4 linked regions of the Homo sapiens genome follow. The gene in region 1 interacts genetically with each later gene. Each region holds a gene or a part of one and is shown in the gene's direction. Other genes may lie near its edges.

What was found. A genetic interaction does not mean that the proteins touch.
Region 2: changes in TRA2B (region 1) and NUP43 together harm fitness more than expected from each alone (negative genetic interaction), as found in Homo sapiens cells (one large-scale study listed by BioGRID).
Region 3: changes in TRA2B (region 1) and MED9 together harm fitness less than expected from each alone (positive genetic interaction), as found in Homo sapiens cells (one large-scale study listed by BioGRID).
Region 4: changes in TRA2B (region 1) and GEMIN4 together harm fitness less than expected from each alone (positive genetic interaction), as found in Homo sapiens cells (one large-scale study listed by BioGRID).

What each region holds. Positions count from the first base shown.
Region 1 is NC_000003.12:185,930,023-185,935,458, reverse strand, and holds part of TRA2B (transformer-2 protein homolog beta), read left to right. Parts: intron 1-3,698; exon of another isoform or gene 3,699-3,882; intron 3,883-5,436. UniProt on the Homo sapiens protein: Sequence-specific RNA-binding protein which participates in the control of pre-mRNA splicing. Can either activate or suppress exon inclusion. Acts additively with RBMX to promote exon 7 inclusion of the survival motor neuron SMN2.
Region 2 is NC_000006.12:149,743,730-149,747,920, reverse strand, and holds the start of NUP43 (nucleoporin Nup43), read left to right. Parts: upstream 1-1,391; 5' UTR 1,392-1,425; coding exon 1,426-1,545; intron 1,546-1,858; coding exon 1,859-1,981; intron 1,982-4,191. UniProt on the Homo sapiens protein: Component of the Nup107-160 subcomplex of the nuclear pore complex (NPC). The Nup107-160 subcomplex is required for the assembly of a functional NPC.
Region 3 is NC_000017.11:17,480,000-17,483,499, forward strand, and holds part of MED9 (mediator of RNA polymerase II transcription subunit 9), read left to right. Parts: intron 1-3,500.
Region 4 is NC_000017.11:746,593-749,264, reverse strand, and holds part of GEMIN4 (gem-associated protein 4), read left to right. Parts: intron 1-1,232; coding exon 1,233-2,672. UniProt on the Homo sapiens protein: The SMN complex catalyzes the assembly of small nuclear ribonucleoproteins (snRNPs), the building blocks of the spliceosome, and thereby plays an important role in the splicing of cellular pre-mRNAs.

The sequences.
Region 1 (5,436 bases):
AATTATTCTCAGTTTGATCACTCAATAGAATACATTTGGGTGAATATAATGACATTTAAAGAACTGGTGTGTCCCTCATCCCTCGTTGGTCTGTGGGATTTATTTTTTCCCCCCTCTCAAAGGTAATAGATTAACACTAAAATCTGTCTATAGGGGTCTAATTAGCAGGCTTAACCTGATCTGGCCAAACCACTTTCAAAAGTAAGATCTCGTTTTCATCTCCGGATTCAAGACTCTTCCCCCAAAATTGCTTGCATTTTGTAAAGGGGTTGACTAGCACCATTTCTTTGTAAAAAGAGGCACTCCTGGCCTTTAAGTCACAATTACAAGAAGTTGAATAAAAAGTTGATGAAGTGCAGGGTAATCTTTAGAGCCCAATAATGGTCACAGCGTATAGGTTGTGTGAGATTTGTATGTTGGTCTTGCACGCAGTGTAATGTTCTGAGCCTCTCAATATTGTAATGAGTTTCTACGAGTGAGTCTTTACTAAAGGAATCCAGAAACTAAGGAGACACTGATGTATGGACCAGATGTTAAAGAAAATGTTTTGACCCAGCAGATACTCTGATAGAATACTGGCTATTATTTTTGTAAAGCCGATGTGATTGCAACATAGGCACGTAATCTTTATCATTAGAGATGAATAGCAGCATCTGGACACCAACCCATCAAACTGCTTTTCAAATTCTGCAGTTTTTCTCATCTTCTGCTGAATCTTGGGATGTCTTTTTATATTCCTTGGTTTTAGCTCCTAAACTCTAAATTCTAATTTTCAAAACTGAAACATCTCTGAATCTACTTCTTTCTAAAGAATTGCAGCCATCTCACCAAATTTCCTTTAAAAAAGGATTGAATTGTCAAATAGGAGGAAATTGTTTTGTATTGTGAGTCTGGTTAGGTTTATCAGTCTCTTGAAACCCGGTTGAAATATTTTTTTCTTGGTTTTAAACAAGAATGCTTTAATATTGTGGATATTGTCTGGAACTAGAACGTGACATTTTCAAGCTGACATTACAGGTGATTTTATAAGGTAAGTACTACTGGTTTTGCCAAAAGGTTGAAAAGGAATTCAGGTGGTGGGGGAAGTGTTAATGGGATTTGCCTTACATAGCGTTTTTTCCTCCTTTCTCTACAATAAAATCCGAACGTAGGTGGTAAATATTAATGCTTTCATAGCTATTTTGCCCAGGACAAGGGCAGAGCTACAGCTGTGTATATTTCTTGAGCCTTAGCATTTTATGTTGATCAGTGTTTTTACATATGCGACTGTTTTTTTAACAAGGCATGGTGACTGATGTTTAGGAATTTTAAGTGTTTTGACCCAGGTTAGTATTGGGGGTGTGGGCTATGTAGAATTAGATATTGAAATCACTTAGTCTTGTTTTTAAACTGCAAACCAAAAGAAGTTCTTCACTGTAGCAAATTACAGTCTTGAAATTCCCCCAAAATCTTTGCTTTGAATTGGGTTTTGGAGGTTACATTGAGATTGATGTTATCAACATAGATTGTTACCTGACAGTTTGGATAAGGGGCCCCTTTTTCTCTAATTTTTGTGGTTAGAAATTAGGTTAAAAGGTAGTCTTCTGAAAAGTCAAAAGATATTTATATTTGCTTTTGTTGGGGAGTACTGACTGTTTTATGAATGTAAATTTAACAGTCTGTGCTATATTTACAAGAGAGTTTTTATAAGCACAGGCCTACAACTAATTTCAGATGATGTTTTTTTCCAGACACTATTCTCCAGTTTTTGAGGATTTACTTATCCATTTACTCTTCTGGTAGACAGTTTGGCTGCCAGAAAAAAATATAGTCCTTATTATATTGATATGAGCATTGACCTTTCCATAACAGGATTAATGAGGTTTTCTTTGCCCCTGTCCCTCCCAATTTTTAAAATATTGCCTTGTCAGTCAACTTAATGAGTTTGTGCATGTTTAATGTTAAATGGATTCTAGTTGTATCCCCTAGAAACATTTTAACAAAAATTGTGTTGATAGGACAAGTTTCTGTTTATTTCTAACTAGGGTCTCTTAACTAAATGTACATAACATTAGCCCAAGAGTTGATCTTCTGGTTTTATAAAGTAGCCACTTGAACTTAGCTGAGTTGAATTAAATCTAATATTTATAATAATTTAGTAATGGTTTTGTTCTTAGACTATAAGAGAAGGAACCAGGTTAGGAAGGGGTAATGAAGTAACAGCAGGAAGGTATCCACATTGAAAACAGTTGTGATAGCTAGAGCTATGGCCTCTATTCTTGTATCTTCTGCATCTAAGTGCCCTGTCTGTATCGAAGTTTTAGGAGGCCCTAAGGAAACCTGCTTGGGCATTCTGATTCCATGATTACATTTGTGCTGCCAGAAAACATTTCCCATTGCATTTTAGTGATGGAGATTTAAAGAAAGCCAATTACTGTAACTCCCTTAAATAAAAACATATTTAAAAATTTTCGGATTAAATAAACAATAATTGACTCTAAAACTAGACTGGAAATTATCCTTTTGTTAGGAAAGACATCACAGCACTTGCCAGATTAACGATGGTTGTCTTTATGCCCAGATAGGTATAAAGACTTGCAATTTTTTTAAACAAAGCCTTACATTTTTTTCAGGAGGAAAAACCAGGAGAGGAAGTAATTGACAATAAAATGAAAGATCATCAAAGTGAAATGTAGGATAACAAGAAAAACTAGCATGTTTTATGTAGGCAGTATTTTATTTTGTTTAGTATGTTCAACAGACATTTACAGATCAACTAAATTCAATCTTTTTAATTATTTGAGGAGGTGAGCTGTAATTTAAATAGTGCCACCTTTTAAAGTAGTATTTCTCCTTTGGACATCCAGAAGACTTAATATTTTCTAAATTGAGGGGGAAAATGTACAACAAAACTCTTTGAAAATACCAGTGTTGGATTCAAGTTTGTTCTGCTTTCCTTCATAGCTACTGGCATATTGTAGGTGGTTGACTTGATTTTGTCTTTTTATGATTCATACTATAAAATCTCACTAGAGCAGCTTTTCCAGGGGGTGGGTTACACTTAAGCTCCAAATTGTCAGGTTCCCTGACACCGTCTTTCTGCAGAGCTCTTTAAATACAGTACAAAAATGTGTGACGCTAAATACGTTTCTTTATCCTATCTAGACAAGTCACAATACTGTAAACCTCTTCAACCCTGAGCGTTTGTCATTGTACAAATGAATTGTCCGTGCTTTCCTTTCATGCACTTATGTATTAATGTGTCACTTTTTGACTAGAGGTGTGCTTTTGACACTTAACCTATTTTCTATTGAATATAATAAGAAGTGTGAAATGTAACTAATAGTTCTTAAAATGTTAAATGAACAGTAAATGTTCAGTGGCGCACTTCACATTCAACTTAAGCATGATAAGTCTATTTGGAGTAGAGAAATGAGATTACCATATATTCTAGAACCAGCAGAAAACTATGTAGTTTTCAGTTTTTTGAGCTGCATATTCTAGTTTCTTTTTTTTTTTTTTTAATCCAAATCAACAAAGGGATTTTTTTTTTCTAGTTTCAGTTTTGGCACTGGATTTTATCCTGGAGTTTTAAAATATTCTTCATCCTGTTCTTTTTCTATTAAGGTTAATGTTGAAGAAGGAAAATGCGGAAGTCGTCATTTGACAAGTTTTATAAATGAGTATTTGAAGCTCAGGAATAAGTGAAGCTGAAATTTGAAAAAATAAAAGAAAGAATGCATGCTAATTATCAGACCAGAAGTCCCACTTGTAGAATATTGAGCAATTTGTGTGAAGTGGGGAAGATGAAAGAAGTCAGAATTTGAAACGGAAGAATGAAGAAAAGAAATAAAAATGAAGTTAAGATAAGAAGTAATCTGGAATCAGAAAGCACTACGCTAAGTAATTACTAGTCTGTTTATGTGTCCCTGTATATTTTGCTAAACATGCATGCATTATTTGTTTAATAGAGGAAAATATATACAGGGTAAAGAAGTGCCTTCCAGGGGAAACGTTTAAATTAGGTAATTCTGATTTTAACTGCTTAGTTAAATGATTGAAATGCAATTTTTAAAAAATATTTAGTAGTCAAGCACCAGGCAGCAGTGAGCTCTCCAGCATGGGTAACAGTGGGCTTCATGTTGTCCTCTCTAGATAAACTTTACCTGTCTAATGTTGCTGGTCCTGGGGCATGAGCGAATACCTCCAGGGTTGGAACTGGTGGTCTTTGCCACCTCCCTGGACTCTTAGATTGCACTGTCCCCTTTCCTTCAGTACTGAGCAATGTATAGTAGAATATTTTCTGTTAAACCATTTTCAAAGGAATGTCACCAGGATGGTTATGGAACCAAACCCCCAAAATCCAAACAAAGCATTGAACAAAATAGTTCCCTTTGGCATTAGTGTGTTAGTTTTTTCCATATGGCACTAGTGGAAATCTGTGAGCATTTGGGCCCTAAATTTAAGATGCATATTTGCTAAATACACAGGGATGGTTTTTCAAATTCTGTTTCTGTTTAATGCCTATTTCAGCTGATTGACTAGGATTACTGATAAAATACCGTAGCTTCCCCTTAGAAGAGGTGGGTCACACAAGTGAACAGGATAGCTAATACAAATTGCAGTAATGGCAGATGCTTTCATTCCTATTTCTCCTTTTTTGCTATCAACATTTAGCTATTGTAATGTTAGAGGTAACGGTTACAAAGTAGCTTTATTCTGGTTACCTGGTATCCCTTGCACTTATTGAGAAATTCAACCCAAAAGCTGTCCCTTCTTTTCTGTGTGTTTTGTTTTAGCTGAGTAGAAGGGTCAAGTGATTGGTGTAATGTTACTTTCAGTTGAATGAGACAAGTACACATATCAAAAATAATACCCAGTAGTAGTCAGCCAGCGGTTTTCTACCCAGTTGAGAATGCCAAGGGTATCATGTCACACATGTCTTCCTGAAATAAACTTTCTCTGAGAGTTGTCAGGTCTTCATGCTCTTGGAGAAAGTGACTTAAATGGCATTTCTTGGAGAATCCATTTTCTGATGCTTTCAGGCCTGTTTATTTCTATATCTTGCAAGCAGAAGAAAATTTTCTCTTAAGAAGTTTTGCATTCCTTTGTCAAATTTCTTGCCATAGATAAACTAATGATGATAAATGTTATTTTATGTTCCAAATTACTCAAAGAGCAGGCAGGAAACTGAGGTAAATGTGTGAATGAATATTACATTTTAATTCCAAGCCCATGGATTCTTTTATCAAGAAACCTGACAGGTCCTTGGGGTGCAAAAGAGGAAAAGACCTCTTAACCCCCAGCCCACTAAAGGAAAGAAAGCAATTTGGAATCTGGTTATGACCCAAGCTGGATAGACTTAAGGTGAGAAAACGTTGCTAGTGGACCATTGTGTCCATTTGTTTTTGTTTTCCCCCTTGACCAAAGCATCTGTGGGTCCTAATGTGTCTCCTC
Region 2 (4,191 bases), on another chromosome or scaffold:
TTGGAGAAAAGAAAAAAGTCAAATCCTTGATAGGAAACTGGTAACTCTAAAGCTGACCCAGATGGATTGCATTTACATGCAGTGCTTCCGTAAACTGTCCCTGTGAAGTAGGACTACCAATATCACATAAAAACAACAGTAGCATAATGGCCCTTTTTAAAGAAATAACCAACATACAGTTATGAATACCTATAGTGTAAAAGAGCTTCATTTTTTAGTTGAATAAGTCATATCTCTTGTATTCAGTAGGATTTACATTCTAATGGGGGAGGAATATGCATCTAAAGAAAACTAACATAAGATATATCCAAAATATATGTCATTAGTGGTCTAGATATCAAATGCTAGCTCACGCCTGTAATCCCAGCACTTTGGGAGGACAAGGCAGTTGGATCACCTGAGGTCAAGAGTTCGAGACCAGCCTGGCCAATATGGTGAAATCCCGTCTCTCCAAAAAAAAAAAAAAAAAATTAGCCAGGCATGGTGGCGCACACCTGTAGTCCCAGCTACCCTGGAAGCTGAGGTGGGAGAATCACTTGAACCTGGGAGGCGGAGGCAGAGGTTGCAGTGAGCTGAGATTGTACCACTGCACTCCAGCTTGGGCCACAGAGACCCTGTCTTAAAAAAGAAAAAAAATGGTGTTGATTTAGATCAACATTGGCTGGGGTCGTCAGGAAATGGTAAAGGAAAGAACAGATCCTTGAAGGATAGGCAGGATTCTGAGGAGTAAAGAGGAAGGGAAGAATATTATAGGTGTAACCAAAAGCACAGAAGGAACCTAGAAAACTGATTCCTGGGCCGTTGACAATAGGTATCACAAACTTCATTCTTAATCATGCACGTAATTGAATTGATCAAAGCTAGGCAATTGGCATCAAAACTAAAACTGGAGTCTTTCAGAATTCCAACTCCAGGCTCTGACAGTGTGTATTAACTTTGAAGCAAAGTATTTGTTTGGGAGACAAGAGGGAGAGGTTTGGGATAGTAGGTTGGCACTTTATTCGAGGTACTTCCACGAGTATTTAAGGATTTTTGAATCGTTTTCTATGCGCAGTGACCTGCAACTGCTTAGGTGTGGTTTCAAGGTGGTTTCTACTGCATTGTTTTTGTTCTGTTTTTGCACTTAAATTTTACACTGCACAATTATTGAACACAAGAAAATACTGACATTGCAGATTAGGAGCAAGTCCTACTGCTCAAAGGCCAAAGCGCTCTTGCCTTTGCTCAGAGCTGCTCTGTGAGATGGGTGGGCCTCTCAGTCTAGGTACTGACTGTGCCCACACTGGCTATCGACGAGAATTGACTCTCTGCAGCCACCGTCTCCGTCCTAAAGTCCCATCCAATCAGGGTTCCGCGGGAAGAGGCGGTGCTGAGAGGCGCGTACTGTGCTTGCTTTTTGCAGTACCTGCTGCGGCCGCTTTCGGCATGGAGGAAATTTATGCGAAGTTTGTGTCCCAGAAAATCAGCAAAACCCGCTGGCGACCGCTGCCTCCGGGAAGTTTACAGACCGCGGAGACGTTCGCTACAGGATCTTGGGACAATGAGGTATCGCCGCTGATAGGGACGAGCCCCTACCTCCTCCCTCTCTCCGGTTGAGCTGACCCCTGGCCTTCCGCGCGCCAACTCCCACCTTCTGGTTCTTCTCGCACTTTTAGGTCCCCCGGACCCCTGTCTCAGGCGCGGTTGCTCCGTAGCTCAGAGCCGGTGATGGCATGCCTGAGCCTCGTATCTCGTTGTGTTTTAAACTCACCATACCATTTGAGATGTTTTGGAGCAACATTTCCGGACGGGAGCACAACTTTTATTTTCCGAGAGTTGACGTTTATGTCATCTCAAGACAAAACTTTCTGTTTTACAGGAAAATTATATTTCACTGTGGTCTATTGGAGATTTTGGAAACTTGGACTCTGATGGAGGGTTTGAAGGAGACCATCAGTTATTGTGTGATATCAGACACCATGGTGATGTAATGGATTTACAGGTAAATCTGTGTAGCATCCAAAAGCTAACTTTGAAAGTCCTGAGTAATACATTTAAACAAGCAGAGCATCATAAAAGTTGTCTGGTGTCACCCCTCGTTTACAGAAAACTGAGTGCTCTGTAAGTTATGATTTGCCCAACATCATTTAGCCATTTAGTGGCAGAAAAAGGACTGGGAAAGGGGATGTAGATTTAATCATACTTTTTTATTAATTGACTGTCGACTATGTGCTAAATACCGTTTGGGGAGCTTTACAAAAATTAATTATTGTTGCATGCCAGTGAATCAAGTATCGTTACTTTGTTTTACTAATGAGAAAATTGAGACTAATATATCTTGAGCATGTACTATGTGACAGATACTGTGCAGGGGGATAACATCATTTTGTTTTTTGAATTCTCATAACAACTCCCTAAGTAGAGATTAGTGCTCCCGTTTTAAAGATTTACCACGATTTAGTGAACTTAACTTGGCCAAAGTCTCAAAACCAGTAATGAGTGGTGGGGATGAAATTGAGTTTTCTTTTTTTTTTTTTTTTCCAAGATGGAGTCTCGCTCTGTCACCCAGGCTGGAGTACAGTGGCATGATCTGAGCTCACTACAACCTCCGCTTCCCGGGTTCAAGCGATTCTCCTGCCTCAGCCTCCCGGGTAGCTGGGACTACAGGCGCAGGCCACCATACCCGGCTAATTTTTTGTATTTTTAATAGAGACGGGGTTTCACCATATTAGCCACGATGGTCTCTATTTCCTGACCTGGTGATTTGCCTGCCTCGGCCTCCCAAAGTGCTGGGATTACAGGAGTGAGCCATGGCGCCCGGCCGAAATTAAGTTTTCAAATCCTGGTGTGGAGAGCCCCTGCATTTTCCATAGAAAGCTACCTAGCCCTGGTGCGCGCTTGTAATCCCAGCTACTCTGGAGTCTGAGGCAGGAGAATCGCTTGAACCCGGGCGCAGAGGTTGCAGTGAGCCGAGAGTGCGCCAGCTTGGGCAACAAGAGCGAAACTCTGTCTCAAAAAATAATAATAATAAATAAATAAATAAATAAATAAATAAAATAAAAAAGAAAGCTATCTAGCTCTAGGAAAGATACATTTTTTTTTTTTGGAGACGAAGTCTTATACTGTCACCCGAGCTGGAGTGCAGTGGCGAGAGCTCAGCTTACTGCAACTTCTGCCTCCTGGGTTCAAGCAATTCTCCTGCCTCAGCCTCCCGAGTAGCTGGGACAACAGGCACATGCCACCATGCCTGGCTAATTTTTGTATTTTTAGTAGAGATGGAGTTTCACCATGTTGGCCAGGCTGGTCTTGAACTCGTGACCTCGTGGTCCACCCGGCTTGGCCTCCCAAAGTGCTGGGATTACAGGTGTGAGCCACCATGCCCAGACGATATTTTCCTTTCCTTTTTTTTTTTTCTTTTTTATGACGAGTCTTGCTCTGTCACCCAGGCTGGAGTGCAGTGGCTCGATCTCGGCTCACTGCAACCCCACCTCGTGGGTTCAAGTGATTCTTCTGCCTCAGCCTCCTGAGTAGCTGGGAGTACAGGCACATGCCAGCACGCCCAGCTAATTTTTGTATTTTTAGTAGAGATGAGGTTTCAACGTATTGGCCAGGCTGGTCTCGAACTCCTGACCTCGTGATCCGCTTGCCTCAGCCTCCCAAAGTGCTGGGATTACAGGCGTCAGCCACCGTGCCTGGCTTTTCTTTTTTAAAATTTTTATTCTTTTTTTGAAACTGAGTCTTGCTCTGTCAACTAGGCTGGAATGCAGGGGCTCAATCTTGGCTCACTGCAACCTCCACTTCCCTACAACCCCAACTCATTTTTGTATTTTTGTAGAGACGAGGCCTCGCCATCTTGCGCAGGCTGGTCTTGAACTCCTGAGCTCAAGTGATCCGTCCACCTAGGCCTCCCAAAATGCTGGGATTACAGGCGTGAGCCACTGCACCCAGCCAGGAATAATATTTTCCTAAGGTTTTATTGTGTTGGTCCCAAATTAAATCAATTGTGGGTGAATGTGTCTAGGAAAAAATATTGTTTATTCATGAAAATACTTTGTATGGCAGTTTGGCCTTTCAGCTTCATTAACACATTTTATTTCCTTAGCACTCATGGCTCTTTGCTTTTTAAAATTGTTATAAGATTTGCTACTAATTGAGTTAAATAAACAAATGGACTTCCTCCCTGCTAATATTTCTGAATCTTTAACAAGCAGA
Region 3 (3,500 bases), on another chromosome or scaffold:
GGAAGTCTGTTTAAGAAGCAGGTCCCCACAGTCCTGTCCCACCTCCCATCCCCTCCAAGCGGCCGGGTGACTACCCTTCTTCCAACTTGGCAGATGGTTAAAAGGTTACTCTCCCGAGATTTATTCTTAGGAAGGAATAAGCCAGAGAGTACCTTGACTGTGGGACACCAGGCACACTGCAGGGGTAGGTAGGGGGAGCCATACTGAAAAGAGGGATTAAGAGAAAGTTCACAGTCTGAAGAGAGACACCACCCGAGCCTTCCCCCACCTGGCTTCTAGATTGGCAGCCAAAGAGAGTGGAAGTGCCCTCTCTATGGTGCGTGACCAATTAAGAGAAAAGACATTGGAAAAAAAAAAAGCCTAGTCAATTAATTCTGAGAAAATGAACAAGCATCACTCATTTGCAGAGCTTCCACTAAGCCTTTTAGTGTTTTATTCTTAAATATATGAGTGGATGGCCAAGGTCACTAAGCATAGGAAGAAACCCCCTGGTAAGAAAGACACGGGTCAGGCGCGGTGCCTCATGTCTGTCTGCAAGCCCAGCACCTGGGCAGGCTGAGATGGGAGGATAGCTTGAACCCAGGGAGCTGAGGCTACGGTGAGCCATGATCGCACTGCTACACTTCAGCCTGGGTGACATAGACTCTGTCTCAAAGAAGAAAGAAAGAAAGAGAGGAGACAGAGAGAGAGAGGAAAAAAGAGAAAGACAAGACAGAAGAGCAGAAAAAGCCACGTGGAGGAAACAGTAGCCACAAAGGAATGGAGTGGTTCTGCAGCTGTAAACATGAGAAGAGGCTAGGATCCAACCTGCAAACCTTCAGTATAGGCGTGTCTTTGAGTTTATAGGCAAATGAGGGAGGAATAAGGGCAGAGGAGGAAGGGAGAGGAGACCTCGTGAAGCCTGGGGGAGTCAGAAGGCTTGGTAAGAGTGATGCCAACAATGAGTCTTCAATTAGGAAAGGGAGGCAGGAGGAATGTTGGTATAGGAAAAACATGTAAGGACACGAAGCCAAGAAATAGCATCTACTCATGGGAGTCAGCTTCTAGCTTGGTGGTGTTGAGCATACATCCAAGGCAGGAAGAGGTGGCTGGGGAGGAGGGAAGAGCCAGGAAACAGAGTGCAGGTGTCTTCTGAGGGATGGGGAGCTAGTGAAACTGTCAGGCTGGAAGCCAGTCAAGACACAGTACTGGCGGGTGGAGATGAGGGCTGGGACCATGTCCGGTCCACCCAGGTGGCGCTCTCTGGCCCTGGGTCCCTTCCTTTCCTATAACTTCCCCAATGATCCTTTTATTCTTTGTTTACTTCTTGCACAGGGGTGAGTAAGGAGGTAAAATCTGAAGTAGTGAATTTAGCCTTTCTTGTTCTCATAAAGAATTCAGAGTTTTTGAAAAATTATTTAATAAAAGTAACAACTGCAAGTTTAGAAGTACAGAGAAACGTAAAATGGAAAATGTGTTCCTTCCCCCAAGTCCCCTCACCTGTAGTAACTGCTGTTAATACTTTCCTAAGTTCCTTCTGGGAATTACATATGAATGTCATTTCAAAAATTTATACAAATTGAGATCACGTCGTACTTGACTTTTTTCACTGATTAGTCTCTTTTGGCCACCTTTCCATACTGCACATAAAGATCTACCTCATTAAGGCAGCTGCAGAAAATTGCATCTTGTGGATGCAGCATAACTGATGGAACTGGTTTTCTGTTGATGGTCTTCTAGCTGTTTTTCTTATTCTTGCTATTACCAGCACAGTGCTGGGGTTAGCATCTTTGTGTAGGAGTAAGTTTATGATCAGATAAATCCCAGCAGTAGAATTGCTGGGGCATAGGGTACAAACATTTTTTATAGTGATAGTTATGCTAAATTTAGAGCACTACGTCTTTTTAGCTAACTCTTTTCCAAAATTCAGTCCTTGTAGACTAGACTGCTTCAGTTAACCTAAAATGGCCTATAAATCTGCCACCCAGAAAGCATTAAACAAAAATTAAAGTTGTAGACGGATTCTACAAGTACCCATGGATATGAAATGGAAACAGGGCCTCTCCCTTCACTCCTCCCAGCTCCCTTGCAAAGCTGTGTAATATTCCACTTTATGAACGTGCTGTCGTTTATGTAAACAGTTTCTTGCTCAAGGACACCGTCATTGTTTCTGCATTTTGCTGTTGGAATCAGCACTGCAGCAAGCATCTTTGCCCATGCTATCTTGGTGAACTCTTGGTAGTCTCTGTGGGGGTAAATTTCTAGCAATGGGATATGTGAATCTGTTTGGGTCACTATGAGCAAAGAATGCCCTGATCTATGCTTCCACCAACAGTTTTTGTGTCTTTCCCCATCACCTGCCATCACCATTAAACTTTTAACTTTGGCAAATCTCATAGGTCAGAAATGATATATTGATCTTTCATTAAGTTAGGTAAAGCATCCCTTCATAGGCGATTTTATATGTCACTTTTATTTTTCCCTATAAACTGTCCATTTCTCTGTTAGATTTTTTTATGTACAGAAAGGAAATAATGTGTGTCAAATGTACTGTAAATACTTCCTCCAGGTTGTTGCTTTTCTTTTGACTTTGTTCATAGTCATGGTTTTTCTATTTGTTTTTCATTCAGATGCATATAATTTCATGTAGTCAGATTTGTTAGGCCTTTCCCTTATGGCTTCTGAGTTTTGGTCCTACTTAGAAAGGCTTTCCCACTCTAAAATTATAGGTATTGATCTCTTTTTTCTAGAACTTTCATGGTTCCATTTTTTACTTGTAATTCTTTGAGGCTCCTGGAATTTATTTTGGTGGGAAGAATAAGGGGGCCTCGGTTAGCCACATCTTCCCACTGCTGTTTTTGAATATTTGTTATTTTCCCTGCTTGCAGTGCCACCTTTACCATGCACTGAATTCCCACATGTTTTCTGATCTACTTATGGACATTCTCTCCTTCTCCAGCACCAAACTATTTTAGTTCTTAAATCTTCATGGTACATTTAATTATCTTTTAAGGTTAATTTTTCACCCTTCCTCTTTCTTGTCAGTATTTCCCTGGCCCTTCCTTTCCCGTGGAGTTTTCTAGCAGCCTGCCTGATGCTAGATCATGATGCTTTTGTTAATGGAACATTTCGTCTTTAATCTGCTTCTTTACTTCCAAGCCTGTTGATACTACTCATTGGCCAGGTCGTTGAGCCTCGCTTTTGAGTATTATAATCAGCATTTAATTAGTCTCTTTGCCTTTATGCTTATTTTATCTTGTGAATGTTATTTGGCTAATTTTTCTTTGTTCTCCATTCTTCTCAAATTGAGCCCAAACTTAGGCCTTTACTCAGGGATCTCTGCAGACCATTTTCAGATTGTCTGCCTGAATAACCCAACACAAAGCCCACAGAGGGTCCTCTTGCTGCAGGTGCTGTTGGGTGGGCGGAGTCCTCCAGGCTGGCAGACCCTCCAGCCCCTCCACTAGAAGTGCCCACAGAAATGCTGCACAGAGCCCTGTGAACCAGAGCCTCTCCTGTAC
Region 4 (2,672 bases), on another chromosome or scaffold:
TGCCCATTACCCTGTGGCCGTGTGATTGCTCTGTGCCCATTATCCTGTGGCCGTGTGATTGCTCTGTGCCCATTACCCTGTGGCCGTGTGATTGCTCTGTGCCCATTACCCTGTGGCCGTGTGATTGCTCTGTGCCCATTATCCTGTGGCCGTGTGATTGCTCTGTGCCCATTATCCTGTGGCCGTGTGATTGCTCTGTGCCCATTATCCTGTGGCCGTGTGATTGCTCTGTGCCCATTACCCTGTGGCCGTGTGATTGCTGCTGTGCCCATTACCCTGTGGCCGTGTGATTGCTCTGTGCCCATTATCCTGTGGCCGTGTGATTGCTCTGTGCCCATTATCCTGTGGCTGTGTGATTGCTCTGTGCCCATTATCCTGTAGCCGTGTGATTGCTTCTGTGCCCATTACCCTGTGGCTGTGTGATTGCTGCTGTGCCCATTATCCTGTGGCTGTGTGATTGCTGCTGTGCCCATTACCCTGTGGCTGTGTGATTGCTCTGTGCCCATTACCCTGTGGCTGTGTGATTGCTCTGTGCCCATTATCCTGTGGCCGTGTGATTGCTGCTGTGCCTGTTACCCTGTGGCTGTGTGATTGCTCTGTGCCCATTACCCTGTGGCTATGCTCCCTTCATCTGTCATGAGAAGCTCAGCTGTCATGTCCTGTGGTACATGCTCAGTGGCCCCTGTAGTTTGTACTGTCCTCCTATTTCTAAACCCCTCTCCCCACATCCTCTGCTGGCCCAGCCTTTGCTGGAGGGTCTCGCCTCAGCAGCCCAGCTTTTTCTTTTCACACACTTTTCCTGAAGGATCTCATTCACCGTCTTGGTTCCGGTGATCCCCTCTGGGCAGATACCTCTCAGAATCACATTTCCCAGCTTACTTCCCTCCTGAACTTCCACCTGGCATTTCCGTTGCTGGAGGACATCTGTACCTTGATGGCCAAAGCTGAACTCATCTTTCCTCACACCTGCTCTGATTCTCCTCCATTCCCTGTATGTGATGTCACCTGGTGGCCTCCCAGTTCCCAGGCTGGAGAGCTCGGAAGCCATTCTGGATTCCTCGGCCAAGTCCTTCTGACTCCAGCTGTGCAGTGGCTCTTGTAGTCATCCCTTCTCCCCGTCCGCTGATGTCCTTTAAAACCCTTGTCATCTCAAACCATGACAGCCTACTAACAGCAGTGGCCATCTGGAAACATTTTCACTATACTGTCTTATTTGGCTTGTCTGTGTGCAGGACCCTTGAACATCTGTGAAGAAATGACTATTCTGCATGGAGGCTTCTTGCTGGCCGAGCAGCTGTTCCACCCTAAGGCACTGGCAGAATTAACAAAGTCTGACTGGGAACGTGTTGGACGGCCCATCGTGGAGGCCTTAAGGGAGATCTCCTCGGCTGCAGCACACTCCCAGCCCTTTGCCTGGAAGAAGAAAGCCCTGATCATCATCTGGGCCAAGGTTCTGCAGCCGCACCCCGTGACCCCGTCCGACACAGAGACACGGTGGCAGGAAGACCTGTTCTTCTCGGTGGGCAACATGATCCCCACCATCAACCACACCATCCTCTTCGAGCTGCTCAAATCCCTGGAAGCTTCTGGACTCTTTATCCAGCTCCTGATGGCCCTGCCCACCACCATCTGCCATGCAGAACTAGAGCGCTTTCTGGAACATGTGACCGTTGACACTTCTGCCGAAGACGTGGCCTTCTTCCTGGACGTCTGGTGGGAGGTGATGAAGCACAAGGGTCACCCGCAGGACCCCCTGCTCTCCCAGTTTAGTGCAATGGCCCATAAGTACCTGCCTGCCTTAGATGAGTTCCCCCATCCTCCAAAGAGGCTTAGGTCAGACCCAGACGCGTGCCCCACCATGCCCCTGTTGGCCATGCTGCTCCGCGGGCTGACACAGATCCAGAGTCGGATCCTGGGCCCGGGGAGGAAGTGCTGTGCGCTGGCCAACCTGGCTGACATGCTGACTGTGTTTGCGCTGACAGAGGACGACCCCCAGGAGGTGTCTGCAACCGTGTATCTGGACAAACTGGCCACGGTGATCTCTGTGTGGAACTCGGACACCCAGAATCCCTACCACCAGCAGGCGCTGGCAGAGAAGGTGAAGGAGGCAGAACGGGATGTCAGCCTGACCTCGCTGGCCAAACTCCCCAGTGAGACCATTTTCGTGGGCTGCGAGTTCCTGCACCACCTGCTGCGGGAGTGGGGGGAGGAGTTGCAGGCCGTGCTCCGCAGCAGCCAGGGGACAAGTTACGACAGCTACCGGCTGTGCGACAGTCTGACTTCCTTCAGCCAGAACGCGACGCTCTACCTGAACCGCACCAGCCTGTCCAAGGAGGACAGGCAGGTGGTCTCTGAGCTGGCGGAGTGTGTCAGGGACTTCCTGAGGAAAACGAGCACGGTGCTGAAGAACAGGGCCTTGGAGGATATCACAGCTTCCATTGCCATGGCCGTCATCCAGCAGAAGATGGACCGCCATATGGAAGTGTGCTACATTTTTGCCTCTGAGAAGAAGTGGGCCTTCTCGGACGAGTGGGTAGCCTGCCTGGGGAGTAACAGGGCCCTCTTCCGACAGCCAGACTTGGTGTTGAGGCTGCTGGAAACAGTGATAGACGTCAGCACAGCTGACAGAGCCATCCCTGAGTCTCAGATCCGGCAGGTGATCCACCTGATCC